3 separate regions of the Homo sapiens genome follow, and all the other regions are reported to be linked to region 1. Evidence: microRNA targets listed by miRTarBase, many of them from high-throughput screens and not tested one by one. Region 1 holds a microRNA gene; each other region holds the end of a gene's coding sequence. Distances are from middle to middle.

What was found. Region 1 holds the annotated microRNA hsa-miR-1206 (UGUUCAUGUAGAUGUUUAAGC, at 3,311-3,331, opposite strand). A microRNA usually pairs through its seed, bases 2 to 8, with sites in the 3' UTR of a target mRNA and lowers its output. Matches are read on the target gene's strand: a 7mer-m8 pairs with bases 2 to 8, a 7mer-A1 pairs with bases 2 to 7 and ends in A, and an 8mer does both.
Region 2: miRTarBase lists MTCL3 as a target of hsa-miR-1206. The part of its 3' UTR that is shown has no 7-base or 8-base seed match.
Region 3: miRTarBase lists SLC7A2 as a target of hsa-miR-1206. Seed matches in the 3' UTR shown: 7mer-m8 at 2,674-2,680 and 7mer-A1 at 3,217-3,223.

What each region holds. Positions count from the first base shown.
Region 1 is chr8:128,006,485-128,012,231 of GRCh38, reverse strand. MIR1206 (microRNA 1206) reads right to left here and starts at 3,334; the gene lies at 3,276-3,334. PVT1 (Pvt1 oncogene) reads right to left here. Exons shown (of 9, transcript NR_190187.1): 5 at 2,514-2,642; 6 at 1,788-1,914. It also overlaps the pseudogene RNU4-25P.
Region 2 is chr6:127,469,061-127,474,235 of GRCh38, reverse strand. It overlaps MTCL3 (MTCL family member 3), which reads left to right. Exons shown (of 7, transcript NM_001400265.1): 7 at 845-1,262. The coding sequence ends at 955. SOGA3-KIAA0408 (SOGA3-KIAA0408 readthrough) reads left to right here. Exons shown (of 13, transcript NR_174482.1): 7 at 845-1,156. Among named protein-coding and RNA genes, the nearest start is that of KIAA0408, 12 kb to the right of the region's middle.
Region 3 is chr8:17,564,091-17,569,265 of GRCh38, forward strand. SLC7A2 (solute carrier family 7 member 2) reads left to right here. Exons shown (of 13, transcript NM_001370338.1): 13 at 860-5,175. The coding sequence ends at 1,056. Among named protein-coding and RNA genes, the nearest start is that of PDGFRL, 11 kb to the right of the region's middle.

The DNA of each region.
Region 1 (5,747 bases):
GACTCTGCCCATGTATTCCTCTTCTGCCAACCAAGGTACCACAATAGCTCCTTCATGCATCCCCCTCATTCAGCAAATGTGTATTGAATGTCAACTCTAATGTTTTGATATAAATCATGGGAGCTAATGTACTCACAAAAATGCTTTGGAAATTTTAATGTGCTCCACAAATAAGAGGGAATCGTTTCTGTTTGTAATGATTCACTGTGAGCTCACAAGTCCCAAAGACTAAGTGACCTTATGGGGTCGCATCACAGTGCAATGCTTGGATCCTTTCAGCCCCACCCCCTCTCAGTAGTAATACAGTCCCTGTGTGGATATCTCCAGTGATGAGATCCCAACCACTGTCAGAGACAGAGCATTCTCTCAGGTTCCTTTTCCTTTTATTAAGTTGCTTTCTGTTTGCCTACTGTTTCTACCTTTCCATTTTGGTTCTGATCTTTGGGGCCACAAGAAGTATATTTGACCTCTTCTCAGCCTTTCACTAATTGAATATCACCACCATCAAGGTCCAGTCTCTACCTCCTAACTCCTCTCCACATCTTCTCTCTGTGAAGCTAAGACGGCCCTAGTTTCCTTGTATTTCTCCATTTGGAAGGCAATAATAGACTGCACCAGACTGGGTGGCTTAAATAATAGAAAATTCATTTTCTTACAGTTCTGAAGACTACAAGTGCAAGATCAAGGTGCTAGTATGGTCTGTTCTGATGAGGGCCCTCTCCTTGCATTGTGGATGGCTCCCTTCTCATTGTGTCCTCACGTAGCAGAGAGAGAAGAGAGACAGTAAGCTCTCTGAGGTCTCTTATTTTGAGGGCACTAATTTCATCACGAGAGCCCCACCCTCATAATCTCATTTAACCTGAATTATCTCCCAAAGGTCCACTTCTTAATACTGAGTACATGGGGGTAGGTTTCATCATATACGTTTGGAAGAAGGAAAACAGTTCAGTCCATAACACTCCCCCACAAAAGATTATCTTGCTAAACAGAAGCAAATCTGATTGAGACATTGACTAAGTACCCACCATGCTTACAAAACATGACTCGTATATGCTGAGGAAATCAATTTGATTGCCCTACCATCAAGACACATATAGTCTAAAGATTGTTGCCATCTACATTTTAGAGGTCCCCGCACCTTAAGACAGAATGAGCCAGAGGCCTGGGTAAATTTGGAATTTACAAATAGAGTCAAAGAAGTCAAGGCAAGAGAAAAACATAGCCCCACCCTTTCATTAGATTTTATTCTAGAGATTAAGACTCCTAAACCAAAATCACAAAATCTCAACCCATTCACTGTTGACTGATTGCCTTCTTTGGACCATGCTGCAGAAATCACAGCAGCAATAAACACGGCAGGCAAATGTGTCAACCCCTGGGGAACTTTAACTTGTTTTCTGCTGTTGTAGTGAGATCAAGTGTGTGTGATTCAACAAGACGGGACATGTGAAACTTCCCTGTACCCCTCAAGCCCAGCACAGAGCCTCATCCAGAGTAGATGCTCAATGATGACACCTTATAAAACAACAAATAATAGCCAAGACCTCTCCTAAGTCTGCTGAGGGGTAGCCACATGGCTTCTTAAAAGTCAGAGGCCATTTGCTATTAAAGAAAGCCATGAGCTTTGCGCAGTGGCAGTATCGTAGCCAATGAGGTTTCACCGAGGTGCGATTATTGCTAATAGAAAGCCACAGATGGTCCTGGAGACCAGAGCCATCAAAACCCTTGTTCTTGTGCGGAAAAGAAGGCAAACCAGGGACCGAACTTGGCTTTTGAAGATGACTCACCACCAAAATCCCAGGTCTTGATGACAGGTTAAATCTTGTAAAACTTTAATTTGGCGAAGAAGTTGGCTGCTGTATTACTCTGTCACATGTCTTGGGAGAGGTCCAGTTTCTGTCACCCTAGCATTAACTGAAAAGCGGGATGAAATATGAAGACATTTTGCAGTTTATAAGAGAAAAGCACCAGGGAGTTTTAACAATTTGGAGAAGTATCATCCTAAAATTGGACTCTAATGGTCACTGAAACCATTGCTGCATTCAGTAAAACTGGGTTGCCTAAAGCTACTGCCATGGAGAATCTAAAACAAGACATAAAGAGGCAGGAATCAGTCACATAGAGGCTTGATGTACAATATGTCCAATGAAGCTTCCACCGGAGAACTGAAAAGCAGTATCTCAGCAGAATTGCAACTTCTGATTTTAGGTTCTTGTCAATCTATTCTAACTCTTAGCAAAAGATTCTTGCTGTTCAGCCTCAGAAACACTTTTATCTTAGTCGACTTTCCTGAAATCATGCTGTATTGAGCTATGATTCTTACTCAAATGTAGTTCCTATGTCAGAATCTCATCAATGAGAAATTTCGCAAGATTGCGTGCCAAAATATCCAGTACCACACTTGCATATTTTTACTTCAAACAGAATTAACACTGCATCTTAGACACAGCGTGGTTTACCCTGCTAGTCATCTCAAACACTGAAGACGGTGACTGTACTACATGATTATTTACCTGCTCAGCTCAGGTTCCCATTGTTCACATTCACATCAAGACAGATCAGCACTGGCACAACCACTGCTTTTATTGGGTATATCAAGTGTTAACAGATCCTTCAATGTGTTTCTCAAAATCTCTGTTGGCCTATGGTAAAGAAAAATAAAATCTATTTTGAAAACTCACAGAGCTCTAGTTAAAGGTTCATTTAATACCACCTATATGTCTTTAATGTCTTTAGACAGAAAAAAAAAAAGCTTTACAGTTCAATTAATGTTTCCCCTTTGGGTGCAATTTAACAGGGAGGGCTTCAGAAAAAGAATGAAAGAGGGCTATTAAACACATTTCTTATATAAAGATACTTGTTCTTATGCAGGACATATAGAATAGGACTTTTTTGTAGCAAATATTTTAAACAAGAGATATTTTGTTATGTGATGCTTTTTTAGCTGCAGCTAAAACAATTTTTAGTCGTGGAAATTCTGAAAAGCTTGTCATTTCTTTTATTATACTTACTAGAATATGATTACTTTTGTTGAAGGACAATATTTTCCCCTCTTTTCCTTACCCTGTGGCCCCCAAAAATGTTTCTGCTAATGATATAAGCAGATTTCTAATACTTTATCTGCTTTTAATCTATGAAAATTAATATTTGGATACTTCATAATTATCTTGATTATGTCACTTGATAAAACAGTGATAGGTATTAATGTTAGTTCAGCCATATATTTATACTGCCTGGGAATAGGTGGCTGCAATTGTGTGGCGAGCATAATTTGGCAGCGTTCACTAGCTTGCAAAAACCTACTGCAAGAGCTTAAACATCTACATGAACACTGATATGAAAAAAGCATGTAAGCCTGACCATAGCTTCTAGTTCCTAGATGGACCTGGCTGTGTTTTTCAGGCCCCAACCTGCAGGGAGCCCCTTCAATCTCATCAGCTGAGTGGGCAGAATAAAGACATCATGCCTGCACATGCTTAGCATTGTGCCCAGCATGGTCAGGGATTGATAAAAACACTTGTGTATTCTCTTTTTATTATCATCACCACCATTATAATCATTACTGAGAGATGCATCCGTAGAGACATCATGTCAGAGAGAAGCAGAGGAACCCAGAAGGCAGCAATGAAACTAACATTTAGAAGCAACACAGGTGATGGGGCAGCCCAGAAAGCTGAAGACAGAAACCATTTCGGAGAATTAGCTGCAAAAGAAGTAGGGAACAGGCATGAGAAGGGGACAGTTCTTTCTGGAGCTAACTCAGTGAACACACCAGAGCCTGTGGGAACATACATTTTTGCATCAGTTTCCTCATTGATAAATTGGAAGAAAGGTACATGGTAGAGAAGGTTACATTAGTCGATATTTGTAACAAGTCAGGGCACATAACAGGCCCTCACTCAAGAGAAGACACTTTTGTTCTCACATCTCCCTTCTTAAATTAAGGAGCATCTGCCCTGTATACAATCCTGCACAAAAATAAATCCACGTAAACAAAATTTCACAGTAACTACAAAAGCCTAATGATCATTAAAAATTCCTGGGAGAAACAGATGACCGTTCACTAATTAATCGGGTTTAGATAAATCAAGCACCACTTAAAGAATCACTGCTCCTTAAAGAGGTAAATGCAACGATTGTCACATGGCCAATTTCTAATTTTTCATTTCTCTGGGGAGACCAAAATGATACAATCTTAGTAATAAATTTCTCCCTAAAGTTTCTGAGGACAAACAATTTCCAGCCTCCTCAGACAAAGGTAAGATGAGTCAACTAGCATTACTGTCAACAAGTATGAAATGTAGGCCACCTTTGTGTCTACAACTAACATACTTTGTTAAGGATCAGATGTAGGACAGTGGTTTGTGGAGTGAAAATTAGGTGGGTGTCCACTGGGCAAGACATTGCACAGCACTGCCTGTGCTGGAAAATGCAAAAGAGAATAAGCTGGATGGGAGTACATCAAACCTAAACCTACACGTGTAGAATCACACTCATGCATACAACCCACATTCTTACTGTTTTCCCATTATCAGGAGACATCAAAAAGTAAAAGGTGTCTCATACCTTCCAAACACATTTCCCAGAAATGTCTGTTAACAGGAAGTACATACCCTTCACAGAATTTCTCCCATGTGTAGATAAATATGTATGTGCACTATATTGTTCTGTCTTGCTCCTACAAAAATGGGCCAATTCTATACAAATGGTACTACAACTTATCTTTTCCAATTGATTGTGGACACCATCCCATATTAGTACATATAAATCTATCTCATGGTTTGTATTTAGGTTTTTTTTTTTTAGTTTTTATTTTAAAATAATTTCAGATGTACAAAGTAAGAGTTTAAAAAACTGAGAAATTCCATTTAGCCTTGCAACTTCTCAATTTTGACATCTTATATACACAGTACAATTATTTAACTGTGTCAGGAAATTAACTTTAGTACAATACTATTGCCCAATCTAGCAATTTAATACAATATTATTGCTTAGTTGCTCAATCTAGAGACGATATTCAAATTTCATCAGTAACACTTTTTTCCAATGCAGAACGCAGCCCGCAGTCATGCGTTGCAGTTACAGTTGGAGCGTGTCCCTTCGTCTCTTTTAATCTGAACTCATTCCTCAGTCATTCTTTGTCTTTCATTTTTAAAGAGTGCTGATCAGTTGTTAACTAGAATGTCACTCCATTTGTGTTTGCCTGATATTTCCTCCTTGTTAAATTCAGGTTATAGTTCTGTCAAGGATAGCACAGCAGCAATGGCTGATTCCAGGGCTGGACCAGGCAAAGTGTACACTGAGCCTAGAATATCTTGTGGGGTCAAAAGGTAAGGCAGTGCTCAAAAAACAACAGTAAAATGGCAAAAATACATAGAACCCAACTTGAAGGGCATCCCAATGTAAAATCTAGAAAAATCTGAGCACAAAATGTATTATAGTCATGGGTTATAACCAATATAATGAGAATCCAAGAGTCCAGACTGATTTTTAAAAAATTGCATTTTTTCAATATAAAAGAAAATATCTTCCTTATAGTAACATTTTAATTGACAAATGTAGGAGTAATGATGGAAGTAGAAAATCACTGTTTGGCACACACTGTAGTAATAACTGTTTCAGACAAGAATTATCCACGAATGCTAAAATTAGTTTGGTGAAAGTGTGATGAGAAACAAGATACTTACATAGGTCCAAAGCATCTCCTGACAAGATACTTATTCATTACACAGAAAAAAAAATAGAAA
Region 2 (5,175 bases), not on the chromosome of region 1:
AGAAACCAGTGGTAAAGAGACATGGTTTTGTGTCTACAACCCCCTGGAAAGGAACAAATGAAAGCCACTTTTTTTTTTTTACCATAAGTTGAAATAACATGATCATTATTTCCAGAGAAAATCACTCTCAGTTGTATAGTGGAGAATCTCAGGACTGGGGAAGGAGTCTATACGGTAGCTTGAAGGCAACACTAATTCAGAGAAATAGTAATAACTATTCCAGAACAGGGAAAACCAGCATTTTTCCTCCATCCTGATTTGTAGAGGCACACCGGATGAATTGGACTGAGCTGCTTTGGCCAGGTATGGTGGCCATTTAAAGACCAATGCATTTTGTCAGAGTTAACCACATGAAAGATAATTTATGAAACAAAACAGGCAATGCTGTTTCCTCTGGCAAGCCTGGTGTCCTGTATCCATTGGAGAACCCACGGAAGTACAACAGCATGCATGGCTTTTAAGACACGGAAGACATTTAAAAGCCAGTTTACGTACAGAAGCATGGTTTTAGATTAACTGCCTGTTGGTACAGCTAGAAACATTGCAGCCCTATCGCTTATTTATCTTGCATGTTGCTCTGCTTTGCTATGAAAAATATCGTTTTATGATAAAACTTGTTGAATTTTGATATGTATTCGGTTATACTCTTAGGGAAAATAATAGAAATTAGAGTGAGAGAAAGTGCTATGTATATTAGGCTTTCAGATTTTATAGATATAGGCTTAAGGGAGGGTGGAGGTTCTTTTTTAAGTTGAATGACTACTTAAATTTGTTGATGTGAATTTAAGTTTTAAAGATTATTATTAATTAACTCTTCTCTTTGTCTTTGCATTTACCTTCCCAGATGTTCCAGCCTATCATTTTACTTATTCTCATTCTTGTATTATTTTCATCACTTTCTTACACAACAATATTTAAACTTGTCTTCCTTTTTACACTGTTTTTTGTACTGTAAATCTTTCATCATTTACCATTCATTGTAGTATTTTCAGTTTGTTTATTTTGTTCACCCTTCAAGACAAGAAGTAAAAGAAGTATAATTTCTGTAGTAACCAATGCTATAAAAACACTGAAGACTGCTTATTTCTTTAAAAAGATACAACTCATCTTACCAAGACCAAATTCAATAAGAAGCCCAAACACTAAAATATTTCAGGTAAGAAAGTGTGACATTTTTCTGTATGAATTGTTTTAATTTTTACTTCTTTTTTTCATCCTGTTTGTCTCCTCTTGATAAATAATTGGCATACTGAATATAAAAATGGACTACATGTCTCATAATTATTTCTCAGTAGTTCACTATTATTATTCAAAAGCTGGACGGACATTCACAATTTGGTCACATTTCCAAAAAGTATATACATTTGTAAAGTATCTTTGCCAGGTTGCATCAAACTAACAAGATAATTTTGACATCCAATAAATATCTGAAAAAAAATATGGGAAATAAATGAAATGTGACCCTCATGAAAACTAAGTAATATGTCGTAATGCCAATGTGTTTTGTCTACAGAGATATGCTTGGAAGCATGAGATTGGATTAGGTCTTAGTTCATTTAGGAAATAATTATCCCTATCCTACTCTATTTGACCAGATTCCCACCAAACCTGCCACTCCTGCTTTTACTTATTATACTTGAAGTCGTGTATTGCTAATCGAACTTATTGCTTAGAGTCCTATCCTCTATAATAGATTGCCTCCAGAGTAGGAAATACTCTATAAATATGATATGTGAATTGTTTTGAATAGGGAAAAAATACAGTCATTCTCTAGAATTTCATTAAAGTATGGTCATTTTCTAGAATTTCATTAGATCACAATCCAAGACTGGTAGCATAGTTCAGGCAGGAGGTGCTCTCGAGATATAAACTAACTTCAATAAACCTGAGCATCCCCCTTTCTCCTCAAACCTAAAGTGGCCTGGATAGACTCCATCTACCCAAAGGACCCATTCTGTCCATCTCATTGATAGTTTATCCAGTGCCACCCAAGAGTCAGCAATCTCCGCACTTGTTGAAGTCACATACTTGTAAATATTCACAGGTTGGTTGACGGATATGAAAATCTGTGGAAAGTGAAGTATCTTGCATGTCTGCAAAAAGGATATGTGGAAAAACTTTGTTATAAAAGTTGCTATTGGTAATGGTCCTTGGAATCCCAGGAATTTAACTTTCAAGGGACTATAATTTATTTATAGTCTCATCCTCCCACACATCCGTTTGAGTATTAATTAAACAAACAAACAAACCTTCACAATAGTCTAAAACTTTAGTTTAGAATAACTGCTCTTACTCTCTATAGGATTTGTTTGGTTTTGGTTTTTGGTTCTGTTTGTTTTTTGACGGGGAGGAGAGACTTGGAGTGAGGAGTGGTTACCCAACAGTTGGAATCTGTCAATATGCACTTCTGGCTTTTCATTTTAGAGATTCTGAGAGCTAGGTAAAGCTTCATTACAAAAATGAATGAAATGAGATAAATGCCATGTTTAATCAATTATATATAATTCAGGTGTTTGCTTTTTAAAATTTTTTCATCTCAGAGATAACAAACACTTTAAAACCTAAAGTTTGTCTGTTAGATCCGTGATAAGTTTCCAGGCCACCATTTCAGGAACTGAAAGTAAATGTTTGAGGGCAGAAATGTAGCTGAAATATTTATCATCTTTGGAGCCAGTTATACCTGTTAAAAGGTTCTCAGCCACCTACAGAGCATTTGGAAGTGTGTGGAGTGTTGCAGGTTATTACAATGACTGGGAAGTTCACTGGCATTTAGGAGGAAGGGATCAGAACTTCAAGGTCCCTGAAATCCCACATCACAAATAATTGGCTTGTCCAAATTGCTGATGTTGTCTTTGTGGAGAAACGTGATATGGTATGCACTTATTCACTTCAGAAGCATCATGCATATTCACCACCCTGTGTGACTTTAAGAAACTGGCTTTACATTTTAGCTTTCTTTATCATGAGAGGAATCAAAAATGAAATAACTAGATCAGTAGTTATCAACACTAGCTGCACATCAGAATTTCTGGGATGTTTTTATTTGGGGACCTACTCCATACTAATTGAAATAAAATGTACGGACCTAGGCATTTGTATTTTTAAAAATGCCCCAGAACCACTACTCTTAGATATTTGAATTATCTAAAATACACATTCTATATAGCCTCAACAAAGCTTACAGTAAACTATGTGATACCAAGATATAGGATCATTAGTTGTCTAGGTTTGAGTAGACTTTAAAGTTTCAGCTGCTCAGTGGATGTCTGAATTCTCTCTACAGCATTTCCACTTAGTTGTACAGCCTTTGCCAGAAGGGATATCACCTCCAGTGATAAAGCAATTATATTTCTGCGCTGGTGGTCGTGCCAGAAAACTTGGCTTGCATTAATACAAGTTTTCAAAAACACAAAATCAAAGGTAAATAGGAGTAATACCTAACAGAAAAGAGAACCAAGATGAATAGTGTGTGGGCACAGGGTCACACACCCACTGAAAGAAACAGGCATGTGTGCACACTGAATTCAAGACTCAAGATGATCCCACAGTGATCTAACATGTTATTACAACAAAATCCCTAGGCATTCTTAGATGGGCTGACAGCCTAAATATATGCAAAGATGGTGCAAACACCTCAGTGATAACTTATGACCTGAATAGGAAAGGAGAGATGTCTGAGCTAACCAAAACACCAGCCTCAACTATAGATCTCATTTTAGGAACTATGGTCATGTTCCCTATGTTGCCCTTCTGGCAACAGGGGTATTAATCTTACCTATGAACTCCTAAAGCAGTGATAAGGTTTGACTCTGTGTCCCACTCAAATCTCATCTTGAATTGTAATCCTCACAGGTTGAGGGAGGGACCTGTAATCCCCACATGTAGAGGGAGGCAGGTGATTGGATCATGGGGGTGGTTTCCCCCATGCTGTTCTCATGATAGCAAGTGAGTCCTCACGAGATCTAATGGTTTTATAAATGTTTGGAAGTTCCTCCTTCACTCCTCTCCACTGCTGCCTTGTGAAAAAGGTGCCTGCTTCCCCTTCCACCATGATTGTAAGATTCCTGAGGCCTCCCTAACCATACAGAACTGTGAGTCAAAGCTCTTTCCTTTATTAATTGCCCAGTCTCAGGGAAGCTCTTTATAGCAGTGTGAAAGTGGACTAATACAGGCAGTTATTTTATAGAATTTCATGAGACTTAAACCTCATCCAGATCCTCCATATGTGAAACTCCTGTGAAATACTGGGGAGAGGAAAGTAGGCTGAAGCAGTACTGACTTGACTGCTGCTCACAGATTCTGGGGGATATGGGATCATTCCAACAGCTCCTCTGAAGTTAGTGAATCAACTTTACTGAACAGTTGAATTCCAGGGAGGCTCTTTTCCACTCTGCCCCACTCACTGCATAAACCAGCTTCCCGGTTGTGCCTGTGTGTACACACACAGCTCCATCACACTGTGGTGTATAATGAGAAATGCATCCAGGGTCAGGGCATTCAGAACTGCCTCTATCTTAGGGGACATGCTGGGGACCAGTTGGTGGAAGGTGGGGTCAGAAAATTGCCAGCAGGCACAAAGTGACCTTTTTCCTTGCCATCTTTTCCCTATAACTTCAAGCTGTTCAATGGGCGCCCAGTATCCAGGGTGCACCTATCTCTTAAAGCGTAGAACATAGACTTGGGAAGATAAGTTGACAAAGATGGTGCCCAAAACCTCAGAAAGAGAGTCCCCAGCATCTTCCCCTTTGATCCTGTTGCTTGCATTATTTTTGTTATATTAAGCTGTTTCTGAAAGAGGAACAACCAGGCTTCTTGATTCACCAAGAGAGCAAAGACTCTTAATTATTAAGACAAGGCGTCATCTTTTGTTTGGACCTTTGAAGCTGTGCTATTTAAACATCACACCAAAGTAAACTCAACAGAGCAAGCCTTATTCTAGAAAATTCCCTTGTATGCACATTCTTGGCCATAGGAAGAAGTGTCTTCTTGTTAATTTGGCCTAGATCTAAGAAAAAAGGAATTCAGTTGGCTATTTTTAGGCATAAGTAACTAAACTCATAAAACAAAGGAAAATTCAGTCCTGAGCCTGGAATGTGTTTTGGCCTGCATTCTCCAATCTTCACTTTAGTTTGTGTGATAGAATGGGATATGGTTATTTAATCAGCTGCCAACGAA
Region 3 (5,175 bases), 110 Mb from region 1:
AGTGTGGCTGTTAATAAACAGTTGCTTTGCATACAGTTCTTCGGACTCTCCTGGTGACAGTGACACGTGTAAAGCATGTCCGTGTCCTCTTTGTTAATACAGAGTGTACTTTGCAAAATATCTGATCTTGACTCTGATAACTCACCACTTGTATTTAGGGTATAATTTGAGACTTTATTCCACATATCATTTTGTTTAAAGTACAGTATTGACTTCTAAGAACATCAATTAAAATTTTTCCATATAAACATTGAAAAACTTGTTGAGAGCAAAATACAGTCTATAAAGTTTGGGTCTTCACAATAGAGAGGCACATTCTACCAGGAAAATATTGATCAAGGACACCTTCTGTGGGGTATCTTACATTTGCATTTCATTCTTCTAAAGCAGCGGTCCCCAACCTTTTTGGCACCAGGGACGGGTTTTGTGGAAGACAGTTTTTCCATGGACAGGGTGGGGGATGGTTTGGGGATGAAACTATTCCACCTCAGATCATCAGGCATTAGTTAGATTCTCATAAGGAGCATGGAACCTAGATCCCTCACGTGTGCAGTCCCTTCTGTGAGAATCTAATGCTGCCCTGCTCTGACAGGAGGCAGAGCTCAGGTGGTAATGTTCACAATGGGGAGTGGCTGTAAATACACTGTAAATACTAGAGACTGCTTGCTCACTTCCTGTTGTGTGGCCTGGTTCCTAACAATAGTGGTCTGTGGCCCAGGGGTTGGTGACCCCCGTTCTAAAGTACTACAGAAAGGAAAGAGACAAACTCTATTAAGTTCTACATTTTCCACCTCAATAACTTAAAAGTCATTTTCTGACATACCTGAAACATTGATTTTTTTTTTTCCTGCCCCAACAGGCTTCCTGATTTACTTTTCTTATGGCATTAGACACAGCCTGGAGGGTCATCTGAGAGATGAAAACAATGAAGAAGATGCTTATCCAGACAACGTTCATGCAGCAGCAGAAGAAAAATCTGCCATTCAAGCAAATGACCATCACCCAAGAAATCTCAGTTCACCTTTCATATTCCATGAAAAGACAAGTGAATTCTAACACTTGCAGGAGCAGAGCTGGTCATCGTCTTAGCATACATATCCTACACTGAGTAAACCGTAACGGGATGTCATCAGCATGCTGGGTTGTCATGGGTTTGCTGCATACATAGTTCACCCTAATTTATACTTACTCATCTGGACAGCATCTCCTCAGATGGTGAATTATGTGCACGGGGAAACCTCCTGAGTGGAAGTTTCATTCATCAGTGATGAATAGCCCCCAAACAGTGGGAGTGTGTATGTATGTGTGTATGTATGTATCTATGTATATGCTTGGGAACATGAGTGTTACAAGTTAGCTGGTGTTTTACTATTATTGTGTTACATTTTTCCAGTGTCGTCATTAATCGGTGGCATATACTGCACATACTGAAATAGAGGGAAATCACTGAATGTAAAGAGGTTTCATCTATGCCCCCTGCAGTTGGGGAAATACTAGTAGCTTTACCTTGTTTGACTTCATTAATGTCAGTTTAGGGGATGCCAAAAATGCAGTTACTCATCATGGTGTCTGTCACTGGTTAGGGGTAAGATGAGGGGATAAGGAAAGAGACTTTTCAATAAGTTGTGAATGCCAACAGTGGGTTTAATGCAAATTTTTTTTCCTGTGAGGTATGACAGTTTGCTCAAACTTCAGCCAACAGGGGTGTCTGCTTCTGCTGCACTACACAGGCCAGGAGTGGCATTCCATGCCACTAGTTGGCATCCTTTTGAACTTTTGTCTCCTTTGCAAACAGTGGTCCTAAAATACGAGGTCTTCACTTGCTGTGAATGACGTATCCCCAGTCAGGGACTTAAGAGAGGCACTGTGATATACTTGGGACCCTTTAAATTAAAAAGTGAAGATAGTCACCAGGGCCAGAAAGCTCATGGAGTGGCCGTAATGAGAATATGTTTGAAGATCAAAGAGTTAGACCAATGCTTGAATAAGTAGACCCCAAGCATCCTTTTCTAAAAAGTGACTTAAAATAAGCCAACAGACTCTCCCAGACCACACAACTAGTGGAATGATTCCTCCTTTTTCCATTACTTACTTAATCACAGTTTAGTTTTTTTCTTAACCTCGTCAGGCCCAGAGTTCACTTCTTTGTTTCTCTGTTTCTTTTGTCTTGTCTTAGAGATGAGGGGGCTACAGCAGCATCATGCAAAGAGGGAAAGATGAAGGGATAGAAGAAGAGAAAATCCCCCTGTTCTGATAGGAACGGCCTGTTCCATTGTTAAATGGCAAATGGCCCAATTTAAGGGCTTTGGATCTAATTTGCCTCTGATGTTTCCTTTGGAAACATTTAGGAATATTTTTCTCCCCCTACCCCATAAATTGTGTAGCACTTTTTATTCCATTTGCTTTCAAATGACTACACTAAGCCTAATAATACAAGCTCCAGTGTTATACAATAACCCATCAGTGATTGGGGAATCAAACATTTTGGTTTAAAAAACATGATTATTTAAAACTGGAAACTAAAAAGAATCAAATTGAATTAAAGCTATATAAACACAGTTAACCCTTGTAAATGAGTAAACAAATTTTTACATGTAAGATTCTCTAATTGTCATATTTTACTTTTTAGGATTCCCTAATAGTGGACTGTTTATTTGCAGTGTATTTGCTTCTCATGAACTATTTCTCGTACAAATCATTAAATAGTTCATTGGATGAGGCTGGGTGACATTTCCCAGGACAGCATGGTGAACATTACCAGGCATGCTAGCTGGCCCGTGTAATCCCAAGACAAGGAAAACATTCGTTTTCCTCATGGGTCTTCCAAGAAATGAGCTATTTTATTGATGCCATTAAAAAGCAAGTTGCGATGGTTTTGTATAGCCAGGAGTTTATTGTGATTAAACATCAAAGAAACAGGTAGAAAGCCTGGGTTTCTGGCTGCTAGCGTTATAGCATCCATGACACAGAACTCATTACGGACATTCCACAACTTCCAGGGTGCACATGGTAAAATCTGAAGCCCAGAATTTTCTCTCAAGCTGCGTGGTTTACTGGAGAGAAGGAGTTGGATAAGCACAGGCTCGGGTATTTTGGTAGGGACTGTAGGCATGCTCATAAATCCTTGCTGTTGTCACAGTACGCTGAAAACCCGTTTGATTCTATACCCAATCAAGAATAGACCCTTCACACAGGAAATGTGAACAATTGTTATATATGAACACTCAAATCTTTTACTGTAACGAAACCAAGAAACTTGTTTAGAATGTGATAGGCAGCTAAAACTGTTATGCCCACTGTGCTCAATTTGAAGCAGAATTTAGTGAAAAATTATTTTTCCACATTGAAACACTTTGCAGACACAAATATCTATGAAAAGATGCTTTGTCAGCCACTGTGCCTTTTTTTCTGTGAAGACTCAACGGATGTGTGTGTTTGTATGTTTGTTAACAGTTACATATGTTTGTATGAGTGTATATATATATCTGTGTGTGTGTATCTCTAACGTCAGTGTATAAGTAAGTTGGGTTTATGGTGGGCTTTGACTATGTCATTAGGTGGGTACAAAACCCAACTGATGTGGAGAAAAATTGATGTTTGATGTTGATAGATATGCTTATACCTAATTTTTAGTTTTTAAACTATTTTAAAATATACTATGATTTTATATGTATATTTCCTATAGACTCTTTAAGACGTATTTATAATGTTTCTAATATGAAATCACTAAACTCTAGTACATTATAGCAGGTGCTTTGTAATCTGGAATGGAGAAGAGGTAGGGGCATTTGGGGATTCCTGTTTACTTGCTGCTGCCACACCTTTTCCGACTGATCTGTCCTGGTAGGTGTTTATTAGCAAAAGTCAGTATCACCAGCTCTTTGGCACCTTTCTGTTTCTGCTTGTGAATTCATAATGTTTTCAACTAAATTTTTTTTTTCTTTCTCAGAATTACCTAAATGTTTTGTAGAGTTTTGACTAGTAATCAATCAAAATTATATAAAGTCTTCTCCAGTAATTAAGAAATACATATGCAAATTCTTTTGTGATTGAGTAAAAGCAGCTTAAATTACTTTTCTTTTCTACATTAAGAAATATATTCTCAACATTTTCAGTGAGAATTTCTTGTAATGGCACCTCAAATTTTATACTCTTAAAAAAAAACAATAATTTGTGAATTACCACCAAAAGGCAATGGCAGTCCTACATTTAAGAATAGAGCTATGCAAACTCTGTTAAAAACTATGAGGAAAACTTATATTAGAACTTTTGATATATACTAAAATACTGATTATCTTAATCACATTTTCCCCAGAGATAAACATTGAGAGAACGAAAGCCAAAGTGTCATTTAAGAGAGATATATATGAAAAAGTAACATTAATATATAGAACTTTACCATCACCAGCCGTAGTTGATAGAAAATATTAGTTTCAGAATTACCCTCCTTTAAAAAATAAGAGACTATTTGTTTTCTTTTAATTTCTATGAATAAAAGAAATTTTTAAAAACTTTAAAATTTTAAATATTAGTCAAAATACTTTTTAAGTCCTGAGTGCTTACAGGTAGTTGTTAAAAAAATTTTAAGGCCAGGCATGGTGGCTCGCTCACACCTATAATCCTAGGATCTTGGGAGGTCGAGGCAAGCTGATCGCTTGAGCCCAGGAGTTTAAGACCGGCCTGAGTAGCATAGCAAGACCCTGTCTCTACAAAAAAAACAAAAATTAGCTGGGCATGGTGGCATGCACATGTAGTCAGAGCTACTGGGGGTGCTGAGGTGGGAGGATCGCTTGAGCCCAGGAGAGTGAGGCTGCAGTGAGCTGAGATTACGCCACTGCACTCTAGCCTGGGCAACGGTGAGACCCTGCCTCAAAAAAAATAAAAATAAAAATAAAACACTTTAATTAGAATCTATTTTTACCTATTTTCTAAATTTATTTAAATGCTTAGCAGGAAGCATAAGGAAAAGCCATCGGCCTCCAATACCCATGATGACAGAGGGAGCACTTGAGCCTTGCCTTCCCTCCTCTTAAATCAGGGTGTGTTCCGAGATTACAGAACATCACACCTTGGCGTGATGAAATCATGCCAAGATTCTGACTCTCCCTTTCCGGTGATACTGCTCATGATTTCTCCTAATACGCTTCAAGCAACTGTTACCACAAAAAATACAGT